Linked DNA regions of Homo sapiens: regions 2 and 3 are each linked to region 1. Evidence: fine-mapped QTL for protein levels in blood plasma. A gene starts in region 1. Each other region holds a variant in brackets. All regions are shown on one strand. Distances are from middle to middle.

Region 1 (9,863 bases):
CAAATGCAGCAAAACACACTGAAAAGAGAAGGAAAGCTTAAATGTGAAGCCCTTTTCACCAACTGGCTTACGGCACACACAACAGAAAAGGCTTTGTTTACAACCAAATATGCTCAAAGAACAACTCTTTGGTTATTTCCCCCTGCAACTGGGGCCCAGCACAGTACAAAATGCAAACTCAATGATTCTGAGCACAGACACACAAACAAACGTGGCTCGCTGCCCCCTCTGCAAATTCCACGGGCTCAAGACTATGGCGATGATGTGGGTTTGTCCACATTCAAACAGCGGTGCATTCTCACCAGCACAGGAAGAAAGTTATGAACAAAGGACCAAGCAGAAACTCAAATTTAAAGACTACATATCCAAGCCTACTTCTAACCCAATGTGCAATGAAGAGAGAAATAAATAAAATCTTCAAATCCCTCATTCAAATCAATAGTTCAGCTTATTATTTGATTTGATTGTTACTGCCAAGTGGGAGGAAAAGGATAAGTTCTATAACTATGGTTTATTTTTCTGTTCTATTTTATTCTTCAAAAGGAATATGGCTGCAAACCAGGGTCATCAATTTGAAGATGGCATGGAAAGTAAGACACCCCCAAATCCACTTGCACGTGCAAAATGTGGCCCCTTACCTTATTCATAACCCTGGGAGAATGAAAACTGAGGACCTGAGATTCACTCCCGTGGCCTTAAATCATTCCAACTGCAGGGATCTAGAAACTGTCAAATTCAATTCGAAACAGCTAAATAAATGGAATTAGAGAGCAGAACGTTGTCAAGTTCATATGAGGAAGAACATTCTAGCAATAAGTACTCTTCATCCACTGAATGGTGAGAGTCCATCCATGGAAGCCTGTGAGCAGAGGCCGGGCAGCTCACTGTTAGAATCTCGCAATAAGCAAGAATCTGTGCTCAGTGTCCACTTAGGTCCTTAGAGTTCTAAAATTCTCGGATGGATGAGTGTTCACAATGAGGACCTCAGAAACTGTACAGTACCAAAATCCTACTGCAACCTAAGAAAAAGATTCTACGGTTCCATATCCTGACAGTGGTGGTGGTTCCATGAACCTGTACATGTGATAAAAACTACAGAGAACATGCCTACAAATGCATGTAAGAACTGGTCAAATCTGAGTAAGGCATGTAATCTAGTTAACAGTATCACTGTCAACCTCCTCATTTTGATACTGTATACAACAGTGACTCCCATCCCCCTGGGGATATTTGGCAATGTCTGGAGACATTTTTGGTTGTGACAACAGGGGGGAGGGTGCTACTGGCATCCAATTTGGAGTCCAGGGACACTGCTAAACATCCTGCAATACACAGGAAGGCAACCCCCTTCCTCCTCTGTTGGCACGTACACACAACACACACACACACATACACAAACAAACACACAATTGGCCCAAAACATCAATCCTGCCAAGATTGAAGTATCTTGTACTAGAATCATCTAAGAGGTTATCACTGGGGGGAGCTGACAAAGCGTACATGGGGCCTCAGTGTACTATTTTTGCAATTTCCTGTGAGTTTATAATTATTTCAAAATAAAAGCTTAAATAAATGTTTTTAAAGATTCCATTCTGTTTAATATATTGGGGCTCTACTTCTCTGGAAACCTGTTAGCCACTCATGGAAAATGCAATACTCTCAGTTAGCCAAAGGGTTCAGTTCTCCAAGCATCTCCATGAATGTCAGCATGTCACACCCATTGGGCATTTCTGTGGTGGTGCGAAAGAACAGCCAATGGTCAAAGCCAGAACCCACATCAAGATCAAATCCCCAATGCCCTTGGCTCCTTGCATAAACCCCGCTACAGGGTTAAAACAGGGCTCCCTCCTAGGGCCTACCACATAGAAAATCTGCCTGTGTGGGGAATCACTGCTGAATACATCTTTCCTTGCACTCACCTTTATGCAAAACAAGAGCTATCTGGGAAATATTTTATCATCTGCAAAGATAAAGTACATATAGACTTTTAATTAGTTATATATGCTTTTATACTGTTATGCATCTCTAAATTGAACCCCTCACTCCCACCTCAGTGCCTCATACATAGCATTGCATCATCCACCCAGTGAAGCAAAGTACAGAAGTTTGCATTAAACACTCCAGGCCACAGTCCAATGTTCCTTCCTATGTAAGTGCCTTCCTAAGATATTCCAAAACAATCCAATGCAGAGATAAGTGCTTCTATTACACCACGAGCAGCATATAGATCAAGCCGCTACTTAAAGTAGAAAAAAAATAATTTTCTCCTAGTGTAGTTTAACTGCACAAAACTGTCACTGATTCCCCTAACTAAGTTCACGCTTAAACCAGTCTTCCCACTTTGGTCCAGGGCAGAGGATTCTGCTGAGCAAACACCAAAATAAAAAAGGACAGGAGTTAAAAATATGAGATAAATGTCACACTTGTCTTGTCATGGTTGGGGAGAGCTCTAAAAAAGCCCCACAGAATTCATTAGAAACACAGCTGACATGGTAGCAGGTCTGCAGGCAGCTGTCCCAACAGGCCTCTGATGTGAGTCTCTAGATCTTCCGAAGACGTGTTTTCAGTATGGGGCTTGGAGATCCCGGTGGATGCCAGGGCTGCGGTGAACTGGGCAATGTGTCCTGCAGGAGCAGAGGCTAGGCACCGAATCAACAGGCTCCCCCATGGCCTGTCTCTACCTGCAAGATGGCCTTCCAAAACCAAATGAGCTTTTTCTTGCAAATTCAGGTTACACTCTGATTTCTCCTCCAGAGACCCCATTCCAAGAGTGGCAAGAGCTGTTTCTCCAAGGACTAAAGAGAGTCACTTCCCCATGTAACCCCTGAGTCTGCAGACACATTAGTCTGTGGACACTGCTCAGGCCAGGCTGTGACTTTCTGAGATGTGTTTTGTAGGGAAAGAAACCTATCTTAGGAATGATGTCCGGTCACTTGTACGAGTCCCCAGGACAATCAAGCTGACTTACTTGTCAAGTCTTAAACATCACCTCTTCGGGGAAGCATTACGCAAGCCCCCACAGATTCAGTGAGCTCCCCCAGCTTGTTTGTTACCTTAACACCCCACACTTTTGTGCAACCCTTAACACAACTGTGATTACTTTCTCAGAGTTCCCAGCTAGTTCCATGTGGTGGGGGGCGGGGGCTGGGGGGCAGGGAAGAGGAACGTCTTGCTCTCCCCATTCCTAGGATCTCACCCAGCACCAGTGCTTAGCAGGTTCTTGGTAACGGCCTGTGGAATGAATGAAAGGTTCACAGGAAGACCAGCACATAAGCGGGCAGGCACACTGGAAGCTTTCATTAAAAAGGTTTTTACAGCAATTGACAAAGTAAAGTGAGGTGGCAGGTGCAGTCTTCCTATTTGCAAACGATGATGAAGTTAAAGCTCAGGAAACTGAGCCATGATTCCAGATCCCCAAGTTGATGAGCCCTAAACATGGGTGTTAGGCCCAGTCTTCAGACTCCCAGTCTGGGGCTCTCTTCCACTTTCCCCCTTAGCACTACCCCCAGTGACTGCCAGAACCCAACATACATGTCTCCTGCCTACACCACCCTACCATGCCCAGGACGGAGCTAAGCACATTGCAGGCACTTAAAAAAAAACTAGAATGCATGTGGATTTGATTCAAACTACCAAACCAAAAAGGCCTTGAGTTAAAAAGGACAGAAGAAAGGCTTTCAAATATCCCAAGCCAGCAAGTGACGCTGAGCAAGTTACTTAAACTGTCTGAGCCTCACCCACCCTTCGGAGCCACTGAAAGGATGAAATGAAACTGGCACATAAAGTTTCTAATGGAGTCACAGTCGACATTCTACAAATATAAGTCTCTTCCCACTCCTAATCCTGTTATTAAGCCACTGTAGCTCTTAAACATCTGAATTCCCATAACTCTCCCTGAAACACTGGAAATTCTGGATGTGTTCAGGGTTGTCACACAACTCAGAAATCTCCGCCCATTCAAAGTTGTCCACAAATGGAAGCATGCCAGGGCCTCTGCAAAGGGGGGTGCTCATATAGGTCCACCCTTTCAGGAGTTCTGTGTCCTCACCCCTCCTCCACTTTCCCACTGCCCTGGCTGCTGACTTTCGTGAGCAGTTTAACCAAACAAAGACGATGCCTTCCATACCCGGAGCCCTGTAACGGTGGCACCCGCACGTATCTCCTTTCAGGAAAGGCCATTGCGAGGCCAGAGAATTTGGCCACATTCCTGCTCATGCCCCACTCTTGAAATACCAGGCCTGCAGCCCCTGCAATTTAAGCAAAGAACATTTGGAACTAGAGAAAGCCCCACTTCACAAGGTGGTTAATAAACTACGTCATTTAGTGGAAGTCATTTTCCTAAGAAAATGAGGTTGGCAGAAACTGAAGATGGATTTGAGAAGGGTATGAGACTTGGATGAAAGACGGAGCACTGCAGGCAGCCAGGGAGCCCCCAAGCCGGAGTCCAGGCTGCAGCAGACTCCAGGCACAGACTCCCCAGTGGAGGCTGTGCCATCCTGCCCCAGCCGGGCAGAGGACCCAAGAGACCCGCTGAGAGTGGGAAGGAGGGAGCTGAGAAGGGACACGACTGGGTAAAGGCCTACTGGCAGAGCTTTCCCTAGAAGGCCATCTGCCAAAACAGCCAGCCATCCACATCCCCAAAGCGGAAATTCAGCCGCATTTGAGGATTGAAGAAGTAGGCAGAGAAGTAAGAGGCATCCAGCAGAAAGACCCTTAGCTCAGGGGATTTCAAGCTTGAAACAAGAACTTTGACTCTCATAGGCAGCCTCCCAATTGCACAGCTCCCTCTTTACCTAAGGGCATAAGCCAGAGCTGAAATGCATGTCAGGGTCAAGGACAAGTTCTGGGAAGCTGGGCGGGCCGGCAGGAAGCGCAGATACAGTCCCTAGGGAGGCAGAGGCGGCAACAGGGAGATTCCCGGGACTGGCCCATCCCAGACACACACAATGGGAGAAGCCAGTTGTCCCCTGGAGGCGCGCAACCACCGGCGCCCCCTCGGGCTGCCCAGCGCAGAAAGTTCCTTACCTGGTGGAGGCGGCTCCGGAGCCGACTTCTCCCTCTTGGGAGCTTTCTTGGGCTTGGTGGCCCTCTTGGGCGGCCTGGGCTCCTGCGGGCGCCGCTCCCACTCCTCCCCGGGCCCCGCAGGCAGCGGCGGAGAGAAGGTCTCGAGCTCGGGCTCCGGGCGCGCGTAGTAGGGCTCCCGGCTCCAGATCTCCTGCCCGTAATAATCAGGGTCCTCGAGGGCTGCGCCCTGGGCTCCGACCCCGGCCAGGGTCACTGCCAGGAGCACCAGGGCCAGCGCTGGGGTAGCGGTCCCCGGGCGGGACATGCCTGCTCCGCCCCGCGCCCAGGGCAGGGTCACGGTCACCGGGGGCGCCGGGCGGGCTGCGGGCGCAGAAGCTGGCGCGGGGCAAGGGCGCAGGGCACAGCAGAGCGGCGCGCTTGGGCGCGGGAGGCGGCCGGCTGGCTGCGCGTGTGACCGGCCCGCGGGGCTGGGCTGGGCTGGGCCGGGGCGGACAGGGGCGCGCAGAGGCGCGGGGCGGGCGCAGGGGGGCCGGCCCCGCCCTTCCTTCTTCCCTCCCTTTCCCGGCGACCCCTCCGAGGCCGGTCCTTGGAGGCAGGTGTTCCAAGCAGCCAAGCCCAAGAAAGCCCCCTTCCCCTCCCCCGCAGGCCAGCCAGCGTGGGGCCTGCTTCCCCAGAGACGCTAATGAGTTTCAATCTTAGAAGAAAACACTGAGGCCCGCTGTTCCATTCCTGTTTTACAGGTGGAGAAACGTGACCTGAGAGAAGAAAAGATTGGCCCAGGGTCCTAAAGTAAATCAGAGCCCAAGCAGCCTCCAGCTCTCAAACCGTGCCCCGTGTGCTGACCATTCCGCAGACGTGGACTTCCCACTAGCCATGCTACTGTTTCAGGAACTGGGAATGAGGAATTCCTGAGGTTCCCGGGGTTTCTGGGAGTAAAGTTCCCTGGGAGCAGGGCCTAGGGACCCTGGAGGAGCCCTCTCCCATCTGAGACTGTGATTCTGTTGGGTCTTGGGAAAGACAGTGACGTTACCCCAAGGTGGCCATCCAGGGGTCACAAGAGGGTTTGTGGTTCATCCAAGAGCAGGCTCTTGCCCAGAGGGTCCTTTGAGAAAGGGCCTCCTGCTTTGGACAACTCTGCATGGGTTCTTTATGCGGAGCCCAGGCCCATGGCCCTGCGGCTTCTGCTCTCCAGGCGGGGATGTGGGGAACCAGGGACTGCATCGTTTCCCTTGCTGCTGTAACAAACGATGACAAACTTAGTGGCTTCAAACAACACCTATCTCACAGCTCTGCAGGTGAGAAGGCTGATGCGAGTGTCACCAGGCCAAAATCAAGGGGTCAGCAGGACTGGTTTCTTAGGGGAGCCTCTGGCGAAAAGTCCACTTCCGGGCTCACTCAGGTATTGGCTGAATTCAGCTCCTTGCGGTAGTAGGACTGACGTGCAGTTCACTCGCTGGCTGTGGGCTGAGGCGCCTTTCCTCCTGCTGGCTGCCTGTGTTCCTCCTCATGTCTTCTGCAGGCTCCTCCAGGCCTCTCCCTGGTCCTCGCACGTGGGCCCGGCATCTCAGAGCCAGAGCTGGCACAGCTTCAAATCGCTTCCCTTCCTGCCACATCTTTCCGCCTTCCAGCTAGAGAAAATTCTGTGCTTTTAAGAGAGTGTGAATAGATGGGCCCACCCAAAAAATTCAGTATAGTCATCCTATCTTGAGTGGTGACCTTAACCACATCGGCAAAGTCCATTTTGCCATGTTCCCTAACTTTTTGCCAGGTTCCGTAACTATCTCTTGTTCTAGGTATTCAGGTGTAGATGTCTTTGGGAACCCATGGAGTGCGCTACAGGGACAGACTGACCCTCAAGCCTGCATTGGCCTGTCACCTTCCCAGTTCCTCTGGGTCTGTGATGTGATCCTACGATGCCACTGAGCTGAGTCAGGGCACCAGGGCAAGGCCTCACCATTGCCCTGGAGTGAGGACTTCCCTAGAGTGGGGGCTCCTGAGACCCCACAGTGGGCAGGGCTTGGACCAGGAAGGTTGTCATTCTCTTTCTGCGCAGGCCACTCCACCAGGCCATCTTTTAGGGCCAGTCTTCCAGGCTTCCAGTTTGAAGGCCAAAGCAGAATGACCAGAGGGAGAGGAGGAGGCTGCTGGTTGAGGCAGGGCCTGTCTGCAGGGACCAGGAGGCCTTGGTCCTGCCTGTCAAACCCCCAGGACGCTCTGGAATCCAGAGCCAGCAGAAGTCCTCAGGGTGAGAGGGCAGGAGGGTCCCCTTCCCCACCCACCACTCTTTGCTCCCCAACCCTTCCTGGATCCCCACCCACCCTCCTCCATGGCCTATCCCCAGGGCTCACTCCTGGGGACTGTTTTATCTGAAGCCAGGCACTCCAGACGACAACACAGTCTTTAGTGGTGAAACAGAAAGCGGCTCCAGCAGCAAGCAACACACCCAGCGTTCCAGCGAGCTGTGTGAAGCGCTAACAAGAGGCTGGCCTGGCATCCTGGCCAGAGGGACTGCAGAGGCAGCCCAGGCCAGGACGGTGCCCTGCACCACCTCCATCAGAACCCCCAGAGCTTGCTCAACAGCAGACCGACACCCAGGCGGCACCCCAGACCTTCAGAATCTCCTAAAGAGTGGGTTCAAGTACTAGCATATCTAAGAAGTTCCTCAGGTAATTCTGATAGCATCCAAATTTAAGATGAATCTTCTCCCTCTCATTTTACACAGGATCCTGAGGCCCAGATTTACCTGAGGACACACAGCAAGCTAGTGATGGCCAGGACTAACCCTGCTCTGCTGCCTTTAACCAATATTTAAAGTCAGGCCATATACATCCCAATGGCCCCAAGCCCATGAGTCCTGAAGACACTTTACCGCTTTTCAGCACCTCTTAGGTGAGTAACATAACATATACCCGCTCTGCAGTGTCTGGTAAGTGTCCAGAGAAGGCCCTACCCAAACATGCCTCTCAACATGTCCCTGGAATAAAGAAATGAGTCCCACTTATTACTGCTCTCCCTATCAATGCTTGCTTGTTTGTTTTCCCTGGAGAGACACATAATTAAAGCAAGTAGGACAAATAGAACAAGAATCGATTGCACTGATGCCAGTTCTCCCAACACAGAAGCCCACGGCACTGTTCCTGGAGCCTCCTTTGTCTACCTCTGGCTCCCTCTCTCTGGTGCTGCCCGTCCTGGAAAGGTGCAAGGCACAGTCAGAGCTCATGAAGTTTAGGAAGATAGGGCGGCAAAGCTGACCTCATTCTCTTGGTTTGCAAGCCTTATTCTTTCTCCCAACTCTCACCTATCTGCCTGGGAGGGTCCTGCGTTCTTCAGCTTCTCAGATGAAGACCTCCCTGGTCATCTTGGCCCCATCTCTCCTTCACCTTCTAATACATAGCAGTAAGTCCTGCTGCTCTCATGGCACACATTCTTTAATCTGCCTCTTCCTCTGTTCCCACTGCCCATCACTCAGCCCATGGTTCAGAGACCCATGGCAGATGATGGGAATCCGTGCTCAGCAGGTCTCGCTGTTTGGGCCTCTCTGATCTGCCGTCCACTCTTCCTTCAAGGCAACAAGCCATTCATTCTCCCTAAACACCCGTTAACAACCTTGCTCCCCGACCGAAGAATCTGCAGGGCTAACCAATCCCAAGTAAACCTAACCCCTCTAGGTAAGGTTCAAGGCTCACCAGCTCACTCAAACTTGGCTCTTTCCACTTGCCACTGGGCAACAACCATAAGACAGATTCTTTTTTTTTTCTTTTTTTTCTTTTTTTTTTTTTTTTTTTTTTGACAGAGTCTCACTTTGTCACCCTGGCTTGAGTGCAGTGGCACCATGTCGGCTCACGGCAACCTCTGTCTCCTGGCTTCAAGCAGTTCTCCTGCCACAGCCTCCCAAGTAGCTGGGATTACAGGTGCCTACCACCACACCCAGCTAATTTTTATATTTTTCATACAGACAGGGTTTCACCATGTTGGTCAGGCTGGTCTCGAACTTCTGACCTCAGGTGATCCACCCGCCTTGGCCTCCCAAAGTGCTGGGATTACAGGCGTGAGCCACCATGCCCGGCCAAGACAGACTCTTAATGGCCTCCTGCACAGCACTGATAAGCTCTGTGATTATTATAATATGCTAACTTTGCATCTTCCACAGAAACCAACAGAATATAAGAAACACAGAAAATTTCAATAACTCCTTCTGCATAACTAATCTTGCCTAGAGTCTTTCACGGCATCAGCCAAAGAATGTTTCTCTCTAGGACTTTTTTGTTCTCAATCTAATAATTTGTCTGTTTAACTCAGGACTGGAACCCTCAGGAGGGGCTGTGAGTCTCTCCGCGTAGTGTAAGTAGAACTCCAGAAAGCACTGATTCTCCCTGGATGTCAGCCGTGCTATAAACCAGACACACCAGTCGGGGGTAGTAATGGGGGCAAACTGGGAAACCAAAGTGGCAGTTCAGAATCCCCCCCAGTTTCTGAGTTCTTCAAATGGTGTTCTTTAAAGTCAACCATTGTTTGCCTCAATTGAGAATCTGCTAAGTGCACTTCTGCTAAGCAAAATAAGCCCATGTTTGTCCATTCATTCATCCCTTAGACAGGATTCTGCTAAGCCAGTTTCTGTTATACAACATAAATCCATACTTGTCTGATAATCCTCAAACACCTTACACGGCTAATAATTTTTCAAATATTTATGAGCCCCACAAAGGAGATTTATGTTAAGCTGCTTGGCAAGGAACAATAGAGTGTGCAGGTCTAGAGAACATTCTGTTGAAACAAATATTGTCAAGACATCAATATTTTTATAGCATTTTTCATTACGGACTTTTCACACCTGCTCA
Region 2 (9,863 bases), 53 kb after region 1:
GGAACCAAGGTATCATCTTTTCCAGAAGCAGTACTGCCCCTTGGTAGCAGGGTTACCATGGCAATGTTTTCTACCTGGGCCTGCTTCGGGTAAGGCTGGAAATAGGACTCACATATTTAAAGTAAACTAGAAAAGCGGCACCAAGCGGGGCCCAGCAGGTGGAAGGCAGGCAGGTTCAGGAAGTCCCCTCTTGCCATCCTGGTGGGTTTTGGCTTCTCGGTCATGCTGGTGGCTCTAAGCGAGGGGATGTGGAAAGAGGCCAGCTCTGGAGTTAGATGGGGCTGGATTCCCATCCTGTCTCTGTTACTGACCTGCTGCGTGGCCTTGGGCAAGTTGTTGAACTGCCTCAGCCTCAGTTTCTTCATCCTTAAAATAGGAGGAGAGAAAGGCACACGCCCTAATATACAGGGTCATTGGGATGATTGTAATGTCATGAGACTCTGCGTCTAAAGGGCTCAGCGGGGTGTCTGGTGCAGAAGTCAGTAGAGCACCAGCCCTGGGGATGGCATGGGGAGGCCGGGCCTAAGGAGAGGCTGTCTGGATGTGACTTTATCAGGCCAGACAGGTAGACGCATGCTAAGTGGGAGCACAGAGGCCCAAGGCATCAGTCTGCCATGAGAATCCCTGTCCCAGAGCCTGGGCGCACCCCAGATGTGCCTGATCAGGGCTCTCTGACAGCCAGGCCCAAGTGCAGGAACCCCATGGCTGGCTCTCCAGGAGAAGGCCCACGAGACCACATTGCTGAAGAGCTAGCACGTACTTCCTGTCCACACAGGCAGAGCTGGGTAGGGGCATCTGCAGGACTTGAAGTCATGGAATTAGAGCAAGGAGACTTAGAAGAAGAGAATACCTAACGGCCCCACCCCACCATCGACATCCCTCAGTCCCAGAACCACAGTCATCGACACATCCTGGCTGTAAAGCTCCCTGAGCTCGAAGCAGCAGGACCACAACCCCTCCCCTGCTGCCTGCACCCAGCTCACCCTGGGAGGCCTCAGTCCTGCCATCAGGGCAGGGAGGAGGCAAGGTCTGCAGCCTGATGCTTCTTCTTCCCTGAAAGCTGCTGCCTGCATTCACCTCCATGCCTCTTCTTTACCTACCCATGGGTGATGAGCCCTTGCTGTGATGTACACAGGACATCTGTGTCATTGTGATGATGTACATGGGACATCTGTGTCCTTGTCATTTGCACAGGACATCTCTGTCATTGTGATGATGGGCACAGGACTCTGTGTCCTTGTGATGATGTGCACGGGACATCTGTGCCCTTGTCCCAGATCCACCCCAGAACCCACCTGGCAAGGGAGCGCCCAAGCCTGGGAATCACTCATCACTACCCAACAACTTTGCCCATCTCTGATCTACACTCTGTGTGTGGGCCTTGGCTCCGGCTCTCAGTGAGCAGGCTTATTTCCCTCATTTCCAAGTTCTTGGGGGACGCCTCAACACCCACCTAACAAGCATCCATAGATGGCAACAGCCTTTCTCTTTCGACTTCCAGCATTTTAAACCAACGCTGAGTTGTTGGAGTGGGTGGAAAACAGCACTTGCCTTTCTGGGACCATGGATTAGCTCAAGATTCCCACACCGGTGGGGCCCTCAAAGCCACAGGACAAGCCTGGTGCTTCTTCCTGGAGCATCTGTGTCTCCATGGTGAGGGTACTCATTGCCTAGTGCTGCCGTCCAAAAGTGCCACAAACAGGTGGCTTAAAACAATGGAAATGGGCCGGACACGGTGGCTCACGCCTGTAATCCCAGCACTTTGGGAGGCTGAGGTGGGCGGATCACGAGGTCAGGAGATCGAGACCATCCTGGCTAACACAGTGAAAGCCCGTCTCTACTAAAAATACAAAAGATTAGCAGGGCGTGCTGGTGGGTGCCTGTAGTCCCAGCTACTCGGGAGGCTGAGGCAGGAGAATGGCATGAACCTGGGAGGCGGAGCTTGCAGTGAGCCGAGATCGCGCCACTGCACTCCAGCCTGGGTGACAGAGCGAGACTTCATCTCAAAACAAAAAAATAAATAAATTAAAAATAAAATAAAATGGAAATGTATTGTCTCATAGTTCTGGGGCCTAGGAATCTAAGATCAAGGTGTGGCTAGGGCCGTGTTCCCTTTGAAGGCCCTAGGGAAGCATCCTTCTTTGCTTCTTCCTAGCCTCTGCTGGTTGCCAGCTTCCCTGGTGTTTCTCGGCTTACAGCTGCAGCAGGTCAATCTCTGCCTCTGTTGTCACGTGGCCTCCGCCTCCTGTGTCTGTCTCTGTATCTTCTCTTATTATAAGGACACCATCATATTGGATTAAAAGCCCCCCACCACCACTCCTGTATGACTTTGTCTAAATTTAACTAATTACATCTGTTGTAACCTTATTTCATAAAAGGTCACATTCAGAGGTCCTAGAGGTTAGGATCGCAACATACATTTTTGGAGGACACAATCTGACCCATAACAGTGAATAATGTTAAAACATTGTTTTTATGTTTAACCAGTGTGGATATTCACGAGGTAGAACGTAAGACCCTCCCACCTGCAGCGGACGGCTGCCCTGTGGACCCCAGAGGACTTTCCCCCTCCTCTGCCTTTGGGGGTGCTTTGAAGAAGAGCTCAAAAGCTAGAGTATGAGGCCAGAAGAACTGGTTCTCTCGTTCACCTTGAGCAGGCCACCTACCTTCTCTGAACCGCATCTGAGATGCGGATGAAGCAGTGGAAACAGGCAAACCCAGAATCTGTAGGCACAATGGCTTGCACATGCAAGTGTGCTTAGATCCCTATGGGCATGCCAGGAGAAATTGTGAAAGAGCTTAAAATAGGTTAAAAAGATTGCTGGGTGTCCTATCTATGCACCCCTCCAGGGTTATCTGAATCTCTAAGGGCCTGCACCTTTCATTGTCTTTGAGGAATTGGACAATTTTGTAAGTTGCAGAAAACTTAGAGTAATGCAAATGGCTCTAGTCCACAGAAGTGCAGATGGATTTTGTCTGGTAGAATGCAACTGCTATTGCTCTGTGGGTTTCGACCAGCTTTGGATCTATAGTCATGCACGGCATAAAAACATTTCAGTCAAGGATGTGTCAGAGGCATCTGAACCACAGTGACTCCATCTTGAACAGGGACTGGGTAAACCGAGGGTAAAATGACCTGCTGGGCTGCATTCCCAGGAGGTTAGGCATTCTTAACCTACGATGTCACAGGATGAGATAGGAGGTCAGCACAAGATACAGGTCACAAAGACCCCGCTAATGAAAACAGGATGTGGTAAAGAAGCCAACGAAAATCAAGATAGCAACAGAAATGACCTCTGGTCATCCTCACTGCTCATTATATGCTAATTATAATGCATTCGCATGCTAAAAGACACTCCCACCAGCACCACGACAGTTTACAAATGCCATTGCCACATCTGGAAGTTACCCTAGATTACCTAAAAGTGGGAGGAACCCTCAGTTCCAGAAAATCCCCACCGCTTTCCAAGAAAACTTGTGAATAATCCACCCCTTGTTTAACATATGATCAAGAAATAATTGTAAAAATAGCCAGCCAGCAGCCCTCAGGAGGGCTCTCACTATGGAGTAGCCATCTTTTTGTTTCCTTACTTCTCTATAAAGTTGCTTTCACTTTACCCTACGGACTAGTCCCAAATTTTCTTGTGTGAGATCCAAGAACCCTCTCTTGGGGTCTGGATGGGAACCCCTGACGGACCACATATATGATGATGGTCCCATAAGATTATAATACCATATTTTTACCTTACCCTTTCTATATTTAGATATGTTTAGTTACACAAATACTTACTATTGTGTCA[C/A]AATTGCCTGCACTGTTCAGTACAGTCACATGTTGTACAGCTGTGTAACCTAGGAGCAATCGACTCTACCATATGGCCATACCAGTAGACTATACCATCCAGGTTTTAGTAAGCGAACTCTGATGTTCACACTATGACAAAATTGCCTAACAATGCATTTCTCAAAACATATCCCATAGTTAAGCAACGTATGACTGTATTTCTAAATTCATGTGTGTTCTTTGAATGTTCCTTTGAACTGGTCGTACCATACTATTGCTTTCCTCACTAAATAGTAAGTTAAGTAAACTTGATGTGTTCATTGTATATTTTATGACAATCATGACTGTGCCTTTTAAAAATTATCCTTTTAACAAGGACAACAGGGCAAAGCATTTGGATGTACAAGTTTGTGGGAAGTTGCAAAATGTATGGACACAAACATCAACAGCAACAGCAACAATAAAATCAGAATTCAATGCCTCAGGGGAGCCTCTGGTGCCTCAAACAAAACCCAGAAGGGATTTGCCAGCCGTGCAGGGTTTGGGTGAGCAGCACGAGGTAGATCCTCCAGGGACCAGCAGGCTGCAGAGAGGCCAAAAGTCCCCTTGGGCCCCACAGGGAGTTGCATTTCAGCCCCTGAAGTGCAGAGCAATGAGGTTAGGTCTGAAAAATAACAAACGAGGTCCTAAAAGCATCACTGCTACCTGTAGAGCTGAGCCAGGTATGTGCCAACTGGCTGGAGCCTGTTGCTGAGATGTTGCTGACAGCCTGGTAGGCAGAAGCTCAGGGCCCAGGCTACGGTGGGGCTGTCTGGCGCAATGAAGCCACCTGCAAAGACAAACACAGTCCGTCTTGGGCCTAGAGGGACACCACTGTCCTGGTCCTCTTCCCAGATGGAGCAGACAACCCCTGCTGCCCCATGGAATAGAAGGGGGATCTGTGTAGTGGGTAGCTCTGAGAAGGTATTTGTATCTCCAGAGCTGAGGCTAAACAGGTCCTTTGTGGCATCCTAATTAAAGAGACCATCGTCATCGTGGTCACCTGCTTCTGCTTCCAGCCAGGATCATCCTGCAAAGCTCCACAGCTTGGGATAGGATGTCCTACAAGGTTAAAGTGTCCATGATGTTTGCAAAGGCCCCGGGCTGGGGTGTGAGGCTGAGCTGGGTTTGAGTCCCAACTCTCCCTTTTGCCTGCTGTGTGACCTCACAAGGGGTGTTTAACTCACCTGATGAGCTGTGGGATTACCTGAGAATATAGGAAACGTGGAAAAAGCATCTGATATAGAGCAGATTCATCCTAAATATCAGTACCCCCATTCCTTCTTGTAGAGCAGGAAACAGGTCTTCTGTAGGCTCTACAAAGCACCAGATAAGATTTGGCCAATCTCTACAAGTCAAAAGTTCTACTTCCGGCTCAACACAAATTCACTTCTTCTCTGTGGGTCTTTAAAACAAAGGGTTCTGAACCTGGTATGAAATTCTAGCATTCAATCTTGCCATTTTCAGAACCTGGGAAAACTGACTTGCTTTTCTAAGAAATGCCTGCAAAGTTCCAGCAGAACGCTGGTCCCACTCTCTTTCCCTCTTGACTCTCCCTAGACAGATGCGTTACCATTGAGATGAGAATTTCTGGACGGTGCAAAGCAAATCTGAGGGTGGCTCCTCAGAGTTCTGTGTGGAATTTTCTATAACCTCCACTGCCCTCTGGACAACAGACAGCATCCCAACCACACTGCCAGCATTCTGCTTCCAAACAGGAGAAGCAACAGCACCTCTTCCCTTCATAAAGATGGCTGGCTCTTCTCAGGCATCCTAAAGCCGGAGTGTGGGCTCCACAGGGCGGGTGCTGGGCCTCAGCTGTCCAGAGAAGTCAGCCTCAGGTCAACGTGGGCTGCTTGGCCTGTTATTCCAAATGATGGAATTCTCTGGCCTTGAAAGCTCATCTCCTCCTTTCCACCAAATGATTAAAATGCTAAGTGAAAAACATTGCTGAGACTCAAAGGGAGCCGGGGCACAGCGTGTCCTTAAATAACTCCTCAGGCCGCAAGTCTAATCACTCTTTGTCCTGAACTTCTGGTAGCAGCATCAACTTCTCAAAGGGCCCAGGAGTGCAGTTTTTTTTTCCCCTACAAAGACCATACTTTTTCTGGGGGTCATTTCCCCCTTTGACAACTATTCCAAGAATGCAAAAAGAAGGAATATTTTCTTCCTAAAAATTATACTTCCAGACTTTGAGCTGTGACGATGCTCATGAAGAGTCAATAATATGCTGCTGCCGTGGAAATCACAAGCACAAAGGAGATGTCTTTAGCCAGCCCCAGAGGGTCCCTCTCAAGGGCTGTTCCAGGTGCATTTTAAATCATGCCAGCAATTGTAACCCACGCACCAGCAGGGTCTCCCTGCCTCCAAGGACCTGGCTAAGCTCTACATTGACCCTTCTTCTGTGGTCTCAACAAGCCCACGGTTACATTCATGTCCTCAAGGCTACCTCTGACCTTCAATTTAGCGTTTATTCTCCCGCCTACCTTCTCACACACACACGCCCTGCTGCCCATCCAGCCAAGTCAGACCTGGACTATGCAGTTTCTGCAAACACACACACACACACACACACACACACCACTCATGCGTGTCATTTGTGTATTTATAGCTTTTTATGGAGTAATTGGAGACAGGGAGGAATTGTCAGGATATACCACTGTCTGTTCACAAAAGCCTTACTTCCTTTGGGTACAGAGACTACATTTCCCAGCTTCCCTTGCAATTAGGTTTGGCCACGTGACTTGCATTCTAGCTAATGGAAGCAGGGCAGAAGTGAAGTGTCATGGTCTGTTCATATAATGGAATACACTTCAACAATAAATAGAAACAAACTACTGTCTCTCTCTCTGAGTGAACCTTAAAAACATGAGGCTGAGTGAAAGAAACAAGACACACGAGACCACAGATTGTATGACTCACTTTCAATGAAATGTCCAGAAGAGGAAAATCCACAGAGACAGAAGGTAAAGTAGCAGTTCCCTGGGGATAGGAACAGAGATGACAGGAAATGGGCATGAGGGATCTTACTGGGGATGAAAGTGCTCTAAAACTGTTTTATGGTGATGGTTACAACACTTGGTAAAGTTACCGAAATCAGTGAACTGATATCTGAAATGGATAAACTTCATGATACGTAAAATGTACCTCAATAAAGTTGTTTTAAAAAAAGGAGTGAGAGAGCTATTCCCAGCCCCAATCTGGAGAAACCTTTGGCATGTTCTCTAGGCCCTTTCCTTCATGTTAACCAGACCATGATGGAGACCAGGAGGAGGGACCCTGGGTCCCAAGGGACTACATGGAGGTGAGTCAACCCCAGGCCTGTCCTGCAAGCACGAGGTGCGCGGCCTCGTGTTGAGCCAGTACTCGTTTGAATTTGGTTTTTTTTTTTTTTTTTTTTTTTTTTTTTTGAGACGGAGTCTCGCTATGTCGCCCAGGCCGGACTGCGGACTGCAGTGGCGCAATCTCGGCTGACTGCAAGCTCCGCTTCCCGGGTTCACGCCATTCTCCTGCCTCAGCCTCCCGAGTAGCTGGGACTACAGGCGCCCGCCACTGCGCCCGGCTAATTTTTTGTATTTTTAGTAGAGACGGGGTTTCACCTTGTTAGCCAGGATGGTCTCGATCTCCTGACCTCATGATCCACCCGCCTCGGCCTCCCAAAGTGCTGGGATTACAGGCGTGAGCCACCGCGCCCGGCCTGAATTTTGTTGTTAAAGCAGCTAGCTTCCACCTCCCAGGTGGCTCCCTGGCAACCACACATATTTCAGTGTGAATGGCATTGTGGTTCTTTGGCCACACCAGCCTTGGAATTGTCTTTCTTGGCTACCAGCTTTTTCATCTTCCCCACCTCTCACTGGGTCTTCTCTTCCTCTCCACTCTTTCTCCCTCTGCCACATCCCTGCCTCTTGAATTGTGCCCAGGGATTCCAGATCCTTCTCTCTTATGCAAAGCATAGCTGTCAATAGATGACCAAGTATAAGGGCTTGTTTTCAGAGTAGTCTTGGGAGAGAGGGAAGAGGGGAGGTATTTGCCTTTGTGAGGGGTTGAGGGTGGGGGCTGAGCTTAGAACTGGGAGACTAAGCTTAGGTGGGAAGCTTACGGGACCAGGCTCTAGCAGATTCTGCTGTGGGTGCTTGGGCAGTGCTGAGACCATTTAGCCCCCTGCAACAACTGGGGAAGGGAGGAGGGCAGGCAGACGTGGACCTGGGCACGCCAGGGACACAGACCTTTCGCCATCTCCAGCACTCAGGTTTTTCTGCTTCTCCAGAACTGAATTGGCACGTGGGTGGTCAGAGTCAAGAACATCTCTTTGAGTCGTAACAGAGAAAAGGTATTGAGTATTAGCAGGGGAGAGTTACTGAAACAAAGAAATGCCTTAAAGTATTCATATTCTCAGTGACAAGCAACATAATTCAGCAGGCATCATTGAAACTGTCGGGGAGAAAACTCCTGGCAAGTTTCTATGGCATAAGCATCAACAATGGCAGCTGATTTTACAAGTCCCGTTGTTACTCACCGAAGATGTTTACAGTGGATTGGACATTTTCTTCATTCCTTGTGCTGTCACTCTCAAGCTCCTACAGAAGCCACTGCGGGCCCCACACAGCATGCGCCCCTCCATTCTCCCCAGCACTGCCTGAAAGCAGCCCTGACAAGCCTCACCTGCATTCACAAGGCTTCCTCCCAACTGCTTTCCTGCCTCCGCCTTTTCTTCCTCTAACACATGCTCCACAGCCACTGTGATCTTTTAAACTCACATTTATAGCCATGTCAATCTTCTGCTTCAAACCCTCTGAAGGCTGCCCATTCCCCTCAAGATAAAGCTCATCTCCCTTAGTGGGGCAGGGTCACCCTGCTCAGTTATTTGAGTTGTGCACTGCACAAGTGTAGGGGTGCTCTGAGACACATCTGTACTCCACGCCCATGAAAGTAACACAGAGAGAGACCTTCGAGGCCTTCAGGTCCCCAAATCTCTCTGGCCTAACGTGTCACCGTCTTTGACAGACGCTTTCTATCCAGCCACTTAGAATTCCCAGTCCATGCGGCTCGGTCCCTTCTGCTTGGAACTCCTCCCCACTCCCTTCTTCCTCCAGGTGTTTCCCATTCACCCTTCTTCCTCCAGGTGTTTCCCATTCATCCTTCACAGCTCAGTTCAGCATCACGTCCTCCAGGAGGCTGCCCCATCCCCTTGCCAATTCTCTCTGCTCCTCCTACACCCACCAGGTGGCTGTGGTTTCTCTAATACCCACATCAAAGCACAGGTCACTCTGTGCTCTGCCTACACCATGAGTTCCCGGAGGATGACTACGTCTCGGGAGATGGGAGGTGAGATTTGGACTGTCCCTCATAGAGCAGGTGGGCCCAGAAGCAGAGGCACAGATGGCTACCCCTCAGCCAGAGGAAGGCCATGAGGGAAAAGCTGCAGGAAGCCAGAGGGAAACTGAGGCCAGGATCAGGGCTCTGAGGCTGATAAACCTATCAACCAGGGTCACCATGGGAAAACTGAAGCAAAGATGGCAGGTAGTTGCTGAAAATATTCACTGACCCCTTCCCCAACCCGTCTCCGTCCCTTCCCCCCACCACACTGCTCATCTCCAGCCAGGCCTTTTCTGGGCCACAGCCACCAACTCCTACTCACCCCAGGGCCAACAAGACACGTGCTAACTCAGCCTGGCACAAATGCCCTGGGAAGGGCCTGGGTGGCAAAGGGTTAAGATGGGCAGGCTCAATGCAAATGGCACCACTGGCCTGTGGGAATGGTGCAGGCCTAGGGTTTGATCCAGCTCATCATTATAATATACGATGTTAATGGGGCTCAAAGAACTAAGGTGAAGGGTGCCCTTTAATCCCCTTGAGGTAAGATGCAGATCCCCAGCTTGGCTGGAGACACAATATTCTCTCCTAGACCATCGGGAGCTTGACCCATGGGCACTGGCAATGAACCTCTCAGAATCCTTGTTTACCTACAAGAGATAATAAAACCGCATAATCACGGAAATGAATACGCATAGTCACAGAGATCAACCAAGAGTGACTGAATCTT
Region 3 (9,863 bases), 23 kb after region 1:
CCGATTGCAGTCCACACAAGGCTTAATTTTTTTTCTTTAAAGAACACTCTTTGCCAAAATCTGTGTTGAGTAATTAACTAGTGCCATGCCCAGCAAGGGAAAGCAGCTGTATAATTTATATTCCACAAGGCTCCACCTGACAAGCGGAAGCCCGGCCAGGCGCTGCTTTCCTTCAGCCCTGCATTGGGTTCTAATTGTGTTCACCCAGGCTGCTCATGTTTGCTGGGCCGTTCAAAGCCTCCAGAATATTTCTCTTTCCATTGTACGGTACTAAATCTTTGTCAACACTTCTCCAAATGCAGAAGTTGACAGTCAGCCCTCAATGACTCAAATGGAAAGCTAGTAAAAGCTCCCAAAGGAACATCTTTCAACAAGTCATAATGCTTTCATAAAATGAAGGCAGGATAACTATAACCACTCTCCTCTTCCTGTCATGTTCTCTCAAAGCAGAGACAATGGAGGTGATTTGGGGCTTCCTCAGTGTCCAGGAACAGTATCAGTCATGTGTTCACCCATGAGGGCCATGGAGCAGTGCCCTCAACACAATCTCATGCCAACATTTAGTCCCTCCATGCTGATGCACGTGGAAACAAAGATGCCCTCGAGAGAGGTGGCCCAGCTTCCATATCCCAGGACTGCCAGGGTCACAGCCACCTACCTGTACTGGTGGGTGCAGCCAGGCAGCGCCCGAACCCACAGAGACAGTGTAGGGAGCAGGTGCAGCCACCATAGACAGGTGGGGCCACCACAGACCATAATGGCAGACAGAGGCTGGAATGTCCCTCACTGAACCCAGCCCCACCGAGCTGGCCCACCTGCACATTCGCGCCCCTGCACACCTGCCTCATCTCCCGACTCAGCCTTTGGTTGCTCACCCATGCCAGACAGGTGCCTTGCTTTGAATGCCTGGACACCTGGCCAGGTTTTTTTTACTCCTTCTCCCTCTGGAGTCTGGGAATCAGTTCTGTGCATTTGCGGCCCTGGAGGTAGGATTCTTTGTCAAATCAATGGCCAAGATCATGACCTCCACCCGGACAGAACCCTTTCATGTCCTGTCAGCATTCATCAAACCTAGTATCACTCCCCCACTGCAGAGATTCTCGGAACTGCACCCCCGGCCCCTGTTGCAGTTCCCAGGGGGAGTTCTCCTGATCCACTGCATCCCAGCTTTCTTCACTTCCCGTCAGCAAGGGCTACCTCAGCACCTCCTCATTGTGCCCTCCCAGATACAAGCCCCAGGCTGGTGCAGAATCATCAGTTACTAGACATTTGCATAAGTGAGTTAGGCATAACTGGTGTGAAATACAGGTATGAATGCAGGTGCTCACCCAACTGCACCTAAGTCTCTGCCTCATTATTGACTGTATCCGTTTTCTGGGGCTGCAGTAACAATGCACCACAGAACTGGGTGACAACACAAATTTATTCTCTCACGGTCCTGAAGGCCAGAATTCTGAGATCCAGGTGTCCACAGAGCCACACTCCCTCCACCAGCTCTCGGGGAGGATCCACTCTTGCCTCTTCCAGGTCTGGTGGCCCCAGGTGTTCCTTGGCTTGTGGCAGCATCACTGCAATCTCCACCTCTGCCTCCATGGGGCCATCGTGCTGCTATGTCTGGATCTCTGTGTGTCCACATGGCACTCCCCTCGTGTGTCTGTGTCTGTGTCCAAATTTCCCTCTTCTTATAAGGACAGCAGTCATCCTGGATTAAAGCCCATCCCAAGGACCTCATCTTATCTTGATTAAACCTGCAAAGACCCTATTTCCATATAAGGTCACATTCATAGATACTGGGAGTTAGGACTTCAACATATCTTTCTGTGGGGGACAAAATTCAACCCATACAGACCTTATGTTTCTCTTGATCTATCTAGTTTTGTGACTCTCTCATTTGGGAATTTGTTCAGCAAGTATTTATTGAGCACCTGTTACATTCCATGCACTATGCTGGGTATGAGGGACTCCTGCCCTCAAGAACTGATGGTCCAGGGGACAGGTCCCCCGGCAGCTGCTAGGAAGTGCAGTCTGAGGACACTCAGAGCAGGGCAGCCCCAAGGGGGCTCCTATCCCAGCCTTAGGGCATCGATGAAGTTTCTCAGAGGAAAGAGTGATGGAGATGAGAACTAGGCTGAATACGATTAGGTTGGTGCAAAAGTAATTGTGGGTTTTGCCATTAGTTTTAAAGGCAAAACCCACCATTACTTTCGCACCAACCTAATAGCCAGGTGAAGAGGCCATGAACGGAAACAGCTCCAAGAAACTCAGAGATGAGAGAAGCTGAGAGACTTCAGGAAACCTTGGATGATTCAGCAAGGTAGAAACAGAGGCATGGCAAGAGATGAAACTCCAGAAAGTCACATGGGTGCTCACATGTCACTGTGATGCCAAGGCACCCACAGAGCCTCTGTGGGCTCTGATTACAGGTGCCACCCATTGAACACACACTGTGAGCACCGTCTCCTGTAATCATTCCTGCCACCCTGCAGGGGTGGGGTGCTCTACATGTTACCAGTGGTGAATCTGCAGCAACCTCAATTCTTGCCTCCTCCGAAGAAAGAATTCGACTGAGGGGCATAAGGCAGAAGGAGAGACTGAGGCAAGCTTCAGAGCAGGAGTGAAAGTTTATTTGAAAAGCTTTAGAACAGAAAGGAGGGGGGAAGGAGGGGCAAACTTGGAAGAGGACCAAGCGGGTGACTTGCGGAACCACGTGCACAGCTAGACCTCTCGACTGGGGTTTTCTGCATTGGCATACTTCCAGGATCTTGCATTCCCTCTCCCCACTCCTGAGATCTTATTAGGAAGCTGCGGATCGGTTTCAGGTGTTTTCTCTTAGGAGCCTGCCTTTCCCTGGCAGCGCCTGTGACCAATTATTATTTTAGAGAAACAGTTGACAGCTGCCTGACCATCACATGATGGTCACCCAACACTCCTAGTGCGTGTGTGTGTGTGAGTGTGCAGATGGTGGGCGGGGGGGGGGGGGCAGGCATTCCTGCCCTGCTCATACCTAAGTAGCTACCCACTGTAACCCACTGAACAGGTGAGAAAAGTGAGGCCTGTTGCACTGGCATTTCTCTCCCCAGGTCACATGAGAGAGGCAGCAGAGGCTGCCCTCTGGGACTCAGCTCCACATCCTGGGCCACCCCTGCATCTGCAGACTGGTGCCCTCCCAGACATTGCACCGGTGTGGAAAAGAAGGGGAGGGGCTGGTGGCCAGGGCTTGTTTCCATCTGTGATGCCCTCCTGGGTATTCACCCCAAAGCCTGCTAATTTAGGAGGCACTGCCAGGGATTGGGAGCATGGAAGTGTGAACTGAAACACGCCCAGCCCTCTCCACTCCGGCTGGAGGAAGGCTCTGAAAGGCACTTAGCTTTTTTCATCCCGGGCTCTGATCAATCACCCACTTCCATCTTTGTGATTCTCACAACCTGTTAATTTATTTTATCAAACAACCTCAGTCCAGGCAACCATCCAGTTATTTTTGTCTCTGAAGCCACACAACAGGTTCAACTACTTTGTTGTTGTTTTCATTTGCCAACTAGGTATAGAGGGTCATGAAGGAACTGCCAGACCTTGTGGATTTACCTCTCTTTGTAGTCATACTCCAGACTCCTCCAAAGCTCATCCACACGGGTAGTTCTCTGCTGAAAGAGTGCTTAGCGATGGAAATGGATCCCCGGGCTCTACTCTGCAGAGATGAAGGGCTCTAAATCTGCATAGTAGCTCTTACTCTAGGAGGCTGCTGGGCTCTCTGCCTTGATTTGATTAATGAGTGTGGAGTTTGGCAGAGGCATTCTTGGAAGATTCTGGATTGGTTGTGTGTATATACATAAAATAAAAGATGTGCTGTGGGTATTTTGAGCTAAACATGACTGATAGCTATGTTTATTAAGATAGGAGCAGTCAAAGCCTGGCTGTTTGAAGTTATACACAGATATGCCGAAGAAGTGCAGCCTTATCCAAGTGCGGAGTCTCAGGATAAACTCAAAAGAGAATATGTATTCTCCAAGTAGCATTTGGTGAATAACAAGGCTAGAATATATGTCTCACCACTCTGTATTCTTTCCCTAATGATTGTTTAGGGGGCATTGGCTTGGCAAAAGAGCACTGGAATTATTGCATAAGTGTGTTTATGTGCGTAGGTGTGTATGTGCATACATCTGAATGAATATACGCATGTATTCCGCACCTTGTTCCCACAAAGGGAATTAAAGATGGCTAAGGAAGCTACGTAATAAAATTTAAATAAGTTTTAAATAAATAGATGAGGAAATCAGGGCAAGTGAGATAGAAAATTAGGAATAAAAATAGAGGAAAGAAAGTAGAGAGGAGGGCAAGTGGGTGTGAGGAGAGGAAGGAAAGACGAGGGGTGGGGAGCGAGAAAAAGAGAAGAGGAAGTGGTGAACAAAAGCTTCTGTTTCCATGGTGACCAGCAGCTCCAGGTCCGCAGAGATAAAGCTCTGAAAGAAAGATGGTGTGGACTGGCTGTTTAACCGGATCTGTGGCATACTTCCAAGCACCATCCCTCCTCAGGAGGCACCCCCCTCCCAGGCTCTGGAAGCTGGAAGCTGCCCACAGCCTATGCAATACATAATTCCCAGACCCTGAACCATGCCTGATGGACCAGAGTGAGCACCAGAGTCAGGCCATTGCCAACCGCATTCCCTCCCCTGGGGTTTCAGAATCCAACCT[T/G]AAAGGCAGGAAGTCAGTGTCATTTGGTGGCTTGACCTCTTTGGCATGGAGCATGCAATTTGGGAGGAGATCCAGCCTGCCCTGTGCCTGAGAAGCAGAGGAAATGAGCATGGCCAAGTTGAAGGTCAAAACAGCTCTTGCCAAGGTCATCCGGGAACTCTGTGAAGCTAACCATGAGTCTACTTCTTAATCTCTAAGCCACATCGAGCACATTAACCATGGCTTCCTTCCCGGACATTCTCCCATCTGGGATACCGGAATGCCCTGACCAGGCCTTCTCTGCCTCGTCTTCCTTCTCTGAGACTCAAGATGTACATGTTCTTTAGCGCTGGGTCTGGGCCCCTTTTCACTTCCAGCTTTCCCCCTTCTCTCTCTAGGGAAGCCTGTTCATTCTACCCATTGCTGTGGCTTTAAATTCTTGCAGAGAAGTCCCGTGTTCCAGGTCTGTGTGACTGACAGCCTCCTTGACATCTCCACTCAGATGCTGCCTCCAGGTCCCAAACTTCACTCGAAAGGTGAACTCCCCATTTTCCTTCCCAGATTCGTTTTCCTGGTCTCTGCCAACAACACCATTTTATACCTGGATGGTTACTTAAGCCAGAAGCCTGGCACCCGGGCCCTAAATGCTCAACCCCAGCATAGCATCCATCAGCCCATCTCGTAGATTCAGCTTCCAACGTATACCATGTATCTGTTTTCTTCCCTGATTCCCCAAGATTTCACTGCCCTCATTCAGGCCAGCACTATCTTCAACACGGATTTGCTTATCAGCCTCCTGACTAGTCTCCATGCTCTCTCTTTCTCCCTGACAACCTGGATTTGATTAACGGCCTCCTAACTAGTCCCCATATTCCCTCTTGCCTCCTGACAATTTGTTCTCCACGCAGCAGCCAGAGGGGCCAGCTCATAACAACAAATGGATCTGCTTCAAACCCTTTCATTGATTCTTCCCACCCAAAGAATAAAATGCAAAGTCCTTACCAAGAGGTTTGAGATTGGACCTGCTCTGGTCCCCTCCCCTCCCGCGGCTCCTCTGATGCCTTCCTCACTTCTCCCCCGCCTAGATCCTTTCAGTTTCTCAAATATTTCCTGCCTCAGGGCCTTGCACTCACTGTTCCTCTGCCTGAAGGTCCTCGCCCTGCCCTTCACACACTTGCTCCTGCCTCACACATCTGACTCTGCACATCATCCCTGCATGGCAGGGAGATCTCCTCCTATCTCTCCATCCAAAATAAGCCCCACGTAGGCCGGGTGCGGTGGCTCATAGCTGTAATCCCAGCCCTTTGGGAGGCTGAGGCGGGGAGATCACTTGAGGCCAGGAGTTCGAGACCAGACTGGCCAACATGGCGAAACCCTATCGCTACTAAAAATATGAAAATTAACCAGGCGTGATGGCAGGCGCCTGTAGTCCCAGCTATTTGGGAGGCTAAGGCAGGAGAATCACTTGAACCTGGGAGGTGGAGGTTGCAGTGAGTGGAGGTCGGGCCACTGCAGTACAGCCTGGGCAACAGAGCGAGATTGTCAAAAAAAATAAAAATAAAAATAAAAGCCCCACATATTATTCTCCATCTCAGCTATCTGCTGAGCCCTTCAGACAACTCATCATTTCTTCTTAGTTTGTTGCCTTGTATGATGTCAACTTTCTTCCTGGTCAATGGCTCCTTATGGACAGGTCTGTGATTGATCCACACTACATCCTCAGAGTTGGTCAATAGTGCGCATTCATGTATTATTTTGAAAGCTAAGCAGAGAGAAAACAATGACAGGGAACCGAGAAAGTGCTCTATGAACTTTCCAGTCCCTGGTCCTGGTTGCTCAGGAAGCTGTTGCCCACTCCAGCCCTGGAGTTCCGCCGAATACTCCTGACGTTGGCCAGCAAAGCCCTCTGCTGCCCTTGAGCAATTTTCTGCTCCTGAAACCAGCACCTAGCACCTGGCCATGACTCTCTGTGCCCTCTGGGAAAACAGTCACCAGCTTTGAAAGCTTGTGGATTCCAGGGCACTTGGCATAAGGCTGCTCTTTCTCAGGCTTGAAGTTTGGTGCTGTACTTTATGCTTTGGGAGAAAAAAAAAATACCTGTGCAAACCCAAATTACTACAGGAGTGGAAAGCATCTCAGCCACCAAATATTCCCAGCCCTAGGAGCATTATGTTGGTCATTGGTGAGCTTGTATTGCATCCCAGGGGATTAGGGGCAAAATGCTATTATATGTGGGATCAGAGGCAGCTGGATGAAGCGAGAGTAGGTGGTAGGATCCATGGAGTAGGGGCCAGGAGCCCTGGGATAGAGAAGCCACTCTGCGCTGATGAATGATACACTAGATAAGGCTCTGGATTGTTCTGGGCTTCTGTGTCCAGGTCTGCAAGACTGAGAAAACCAGAGCCATCAAGTCACTTAGCTAAGCACTCCCACCCCACCCCCATTCACTCTGTGCTCCTTTCCATGGAGCCCCATGGGAGTTCCTATTCACTGCCATTGACCAGTCGTCTCTGACTGCATTAAGCCCACTCCTTTGAGTGGTGACTGAAGTCCCTAACTGCTCAGCTTTCCATGCGTGCATCTGGCCTCCCTAACTCAGGCTCCTCCAGGGCAGGGACACTGTGTTCCTCTCTCTTCCTCAGCTCAGAACCTGGCAAACATCAGGCATCAAATTAATGTTTGTTGGTTTGATCTGGCTAAATGATCTGAAGAATCCTTTCATTCCTCTAGCTCAAGCCACCTTCTGCCATTTGATTCTCTCTCTCTCTCTTTTTTTTTTTTCTTTTGAAACAGAGTCTTGCTCTGTTGTCCAGGGTGGAGTGCAGTGGTGCAATCATAGCTCACCACAGCTTGGAACTCCTGAGTTCAAGCGATCCTCCTGCCTTGATAACCAGAGTAGCTAAGACTACAGGCACATGCCACCACGCCCAGCTCTGATCCTCATCTTGATTCCAGTTGTTTGCTGGAGGGGGTGAGTAGGGAGTGAGAATGACAGATAGGGAGATGGGGGGCAGAGGGGAAGCCAGGACAGGAAGGGAGGGGAGGGAAGGCCGGACCTAGTGTTTCTGAAATTGAGTGAGATTGGATGGAGGCATAGACATTCAGCTTGAGGCAAAAAGGGAGAGAGTAGGAGATGAAAATAGATCTATACAATCAGCAGATGCCAAAATATTCATAACGTTCCCAAATCTCCCTTAACATCTCTCTAGAGGCGCCCATAGAAAAGATCCTTTATTCCATTTCTAATTCAGGATCCGCTTTGATGTGCTCAGGCACAGGAAGGAAAGTTACAATGACTAACATCTTTAATGTCATTAAAAATAATTAAATTACATAGTCATTTCTTAACACCCAGCCTGACTTTTTTCAACACTTTCTTTCAAAATGAAACATTGCAAAGACATCAGGGAGTTGGAGAGAGCCTGCGGACAGAACCTTCCTTCCAACTGCTGCTCTTGATAGAAGATTATAATGGGCTTCAGAATTCATTTGACGTTTTTCTTGCTATTTTGTACACATAATAATAGATGTAAAGCCTCAGATTTTAATGGCACCTTTCTACCTAACAACCACATGTGCTCTCACAAACATTCACTTTTTGTATGTTGAAGAGGAGAGAAGTATTACTAGCCCCATTTTACAGAAGTAGCAAGTTGATGATTCATAGTGCATAAGCACTAATATTCCCTGAATGCCTGCCATACTCTAGGCACTGAGCTTTCGTACAGTCTCATTTATACCTCTCAGCCAGCTTTTCAGGACTGAGAAAGGATTCAAACCTGGACCACCTGACTAAAAACCCACATGCCTCAACACTGTGCTATATAACTTATTCAACAAATCTTTATTGAACAGCTACTCTGTGCCAGACATTGTCCTGGCTGCTGGGGATACAGTGGTACAGGAGACAGATCTCTCTATTGTCAGGGATGATGTTATAATAGGAACACATAAAGAAATTAAAACAGGGTGATGTGTTCAAGACTGTAGGGCAGGTGTGAGAGAGAGTCCATGCCTCCTGAGGAGTTAATGACAAGAAGGACCCATTCACAAGAAAATATGGGCAGCGCATTCCAATCAGAAGGAAGCCCAGGGATCTAAATATGTTGGTATTTATTATTTCCTCAGCCATTTCACCTGAATATCTGTTGTAAGACAATAATTATTAATATGGAAACAAATATTCACTGGTTATTTATAATAATGAAAACAAATAGAAATGACCTAAAATCGAATAGGGAGAAATTTCAAGAAATTATGACCCTTGTGCTTGCTGAAATATTATGCAGCCATGAAAAATAACTTGGCAGGTTTCGATTCTGGCTAGGAGGTATACCTTACTCTCTATCTCTTCTACTGGTTACAACTAAAAACTCAGGACAGACTATATAAAATAACTATCAGAGTACTGTGAAAAATAATAACAGAGTAGGGAAAGAAATAAAAACTCGAAGAAATACAGATCCAGCAGAGTGTCCTGGAGTGCTCCCACCTCATATTTCCTGGCTTAGACACTAGAACAGCTAAATCCTGAACTGTGTGGCAGATGTTATGTGCACAGAATAAGTTCCAAGAGAAATCCTCCCTTTCTGGCCAGAAAATCAGAAGGGCAGCTCTTGCAGTGCACAGCTTGGGGCTAAATCCGCATTTTGTTTTCCTTTTCCCTTCTTTTAGTCTTCCAGCCCTGTCCCAAGGCAATCCCCAGTCATGATGCTGTGATCCCCTTCAGCAGCAGTGGTCATGGAAGCCATACAAGCATGTAAAATTCTGAGAAAATTATTTCCTCTGACTAGAGGAAGCTGGAAAAGGGGTCCCTGTGGTCCAAAGAGTGAGGTGGGAAGGACGTCTGTTATCTCCTCTTTCTTTTTTTCCTAGCTATTTTGTCCTAAAGTGGACCCAGTCACAGAGAGTGCATGAAAACACAGGGAAGGTAAAAACCCCAGCTGGAGCACCAGGAAAGGGGGCCACTGGGAGCTGGAGATTGTGGAAGAAATTTGGAAGAGGAGGCAGCTGAAGAAAGAGAGCCCCTAAATCTGTTTGAAGCCCACAGCTCCTCTCTGAGCTGTGCACGTATGGAACTGACATAAAGTAGCATAGACAAGGCTTTGAGAATTTAACTGCTGTACATCCACTGCTCAGGACCCAGACTGGACCCTGGGTGGTCCCCACACAGGACATATCCAAATAGCACCACA

Direction of the effects. Alleles are on the strand shown, and positions count from the first base shown. The strength of an association depends on the size of the effect and on how common the allele is.
With allele A in place of C in region 2, the plasma level of the protein whose gene starts at base 5,477 in region 1 is lower (moderate association).
In carriers of allele T in region 3, the plasma level of the protein whose gene starts at base 5,477 in region 1 tends to be higher than with G alone (moderate association).

What was found. A credible set is the group of variants that fine-mapping cannot tell apart. PIP is the posterior inclusion probability: the model's chance that the variant is causal. The UK Biobank Pharma Proteomics Project read protein levels with antibody pairs (Olink). The fine-mapping took linkage between variants from a reference panel, not from the people measured, so its PIPs are less certain.
Region 2: its variant is the best candidate, but not a certain one, in a credible set for the plasma level of the CPXM2 protein (UK Biobank, PIP 0.56).
Region 3: its variant is the best candidate, but not a certain one, in a credible set for the plasma level of the CPXM2 protein (UK Biobank, PIP 0.81).

Annotation. Positions count from the first base shown.
Region 1 is chr10:123,886,331-123,896,193 of GRCh38, forward strand. It overlaps CPXM2 (carboxypeptidase X, M14 family member 2), which reads right to left and starts at 5,477. Exons shown (of 14, transcript NM_198148.3): 1 at 5,026-5,477. The coding sequence starts at 5,329. LOC105378534 (a long non-coding RNA gene) reads left to right here and starts at 7,374. Exons shown (of 3, transcript XR_001747622.2): 1 at 7,374-7,653; 2 at 7,748-7,914.
Region 2 is chr10:123,939,166-123,949,028 of GRCh38, forward strand. It overlaps a transcript of CPXM2 not described here. Among named protein-coding and RNA genes, the nearest start is that of CPXM2, 52 kb to the left of the region's middle. RefSeq lists an enhancer at 9,264-9,863. The variant C/A (reference allele first, on the strand shown) is at 3,801.
Region 3 is chr10:123,909,342-123,919,204 of GRCh38, forward strand. It overlaps a transcript of CPXM2 not described here. Among named protein-coding and RNA genes, the nearest start is that of CPXM2, 22 kb to the left of the region's middle. The variant T/G (reference allele first, on the strand shown) is at 4,690.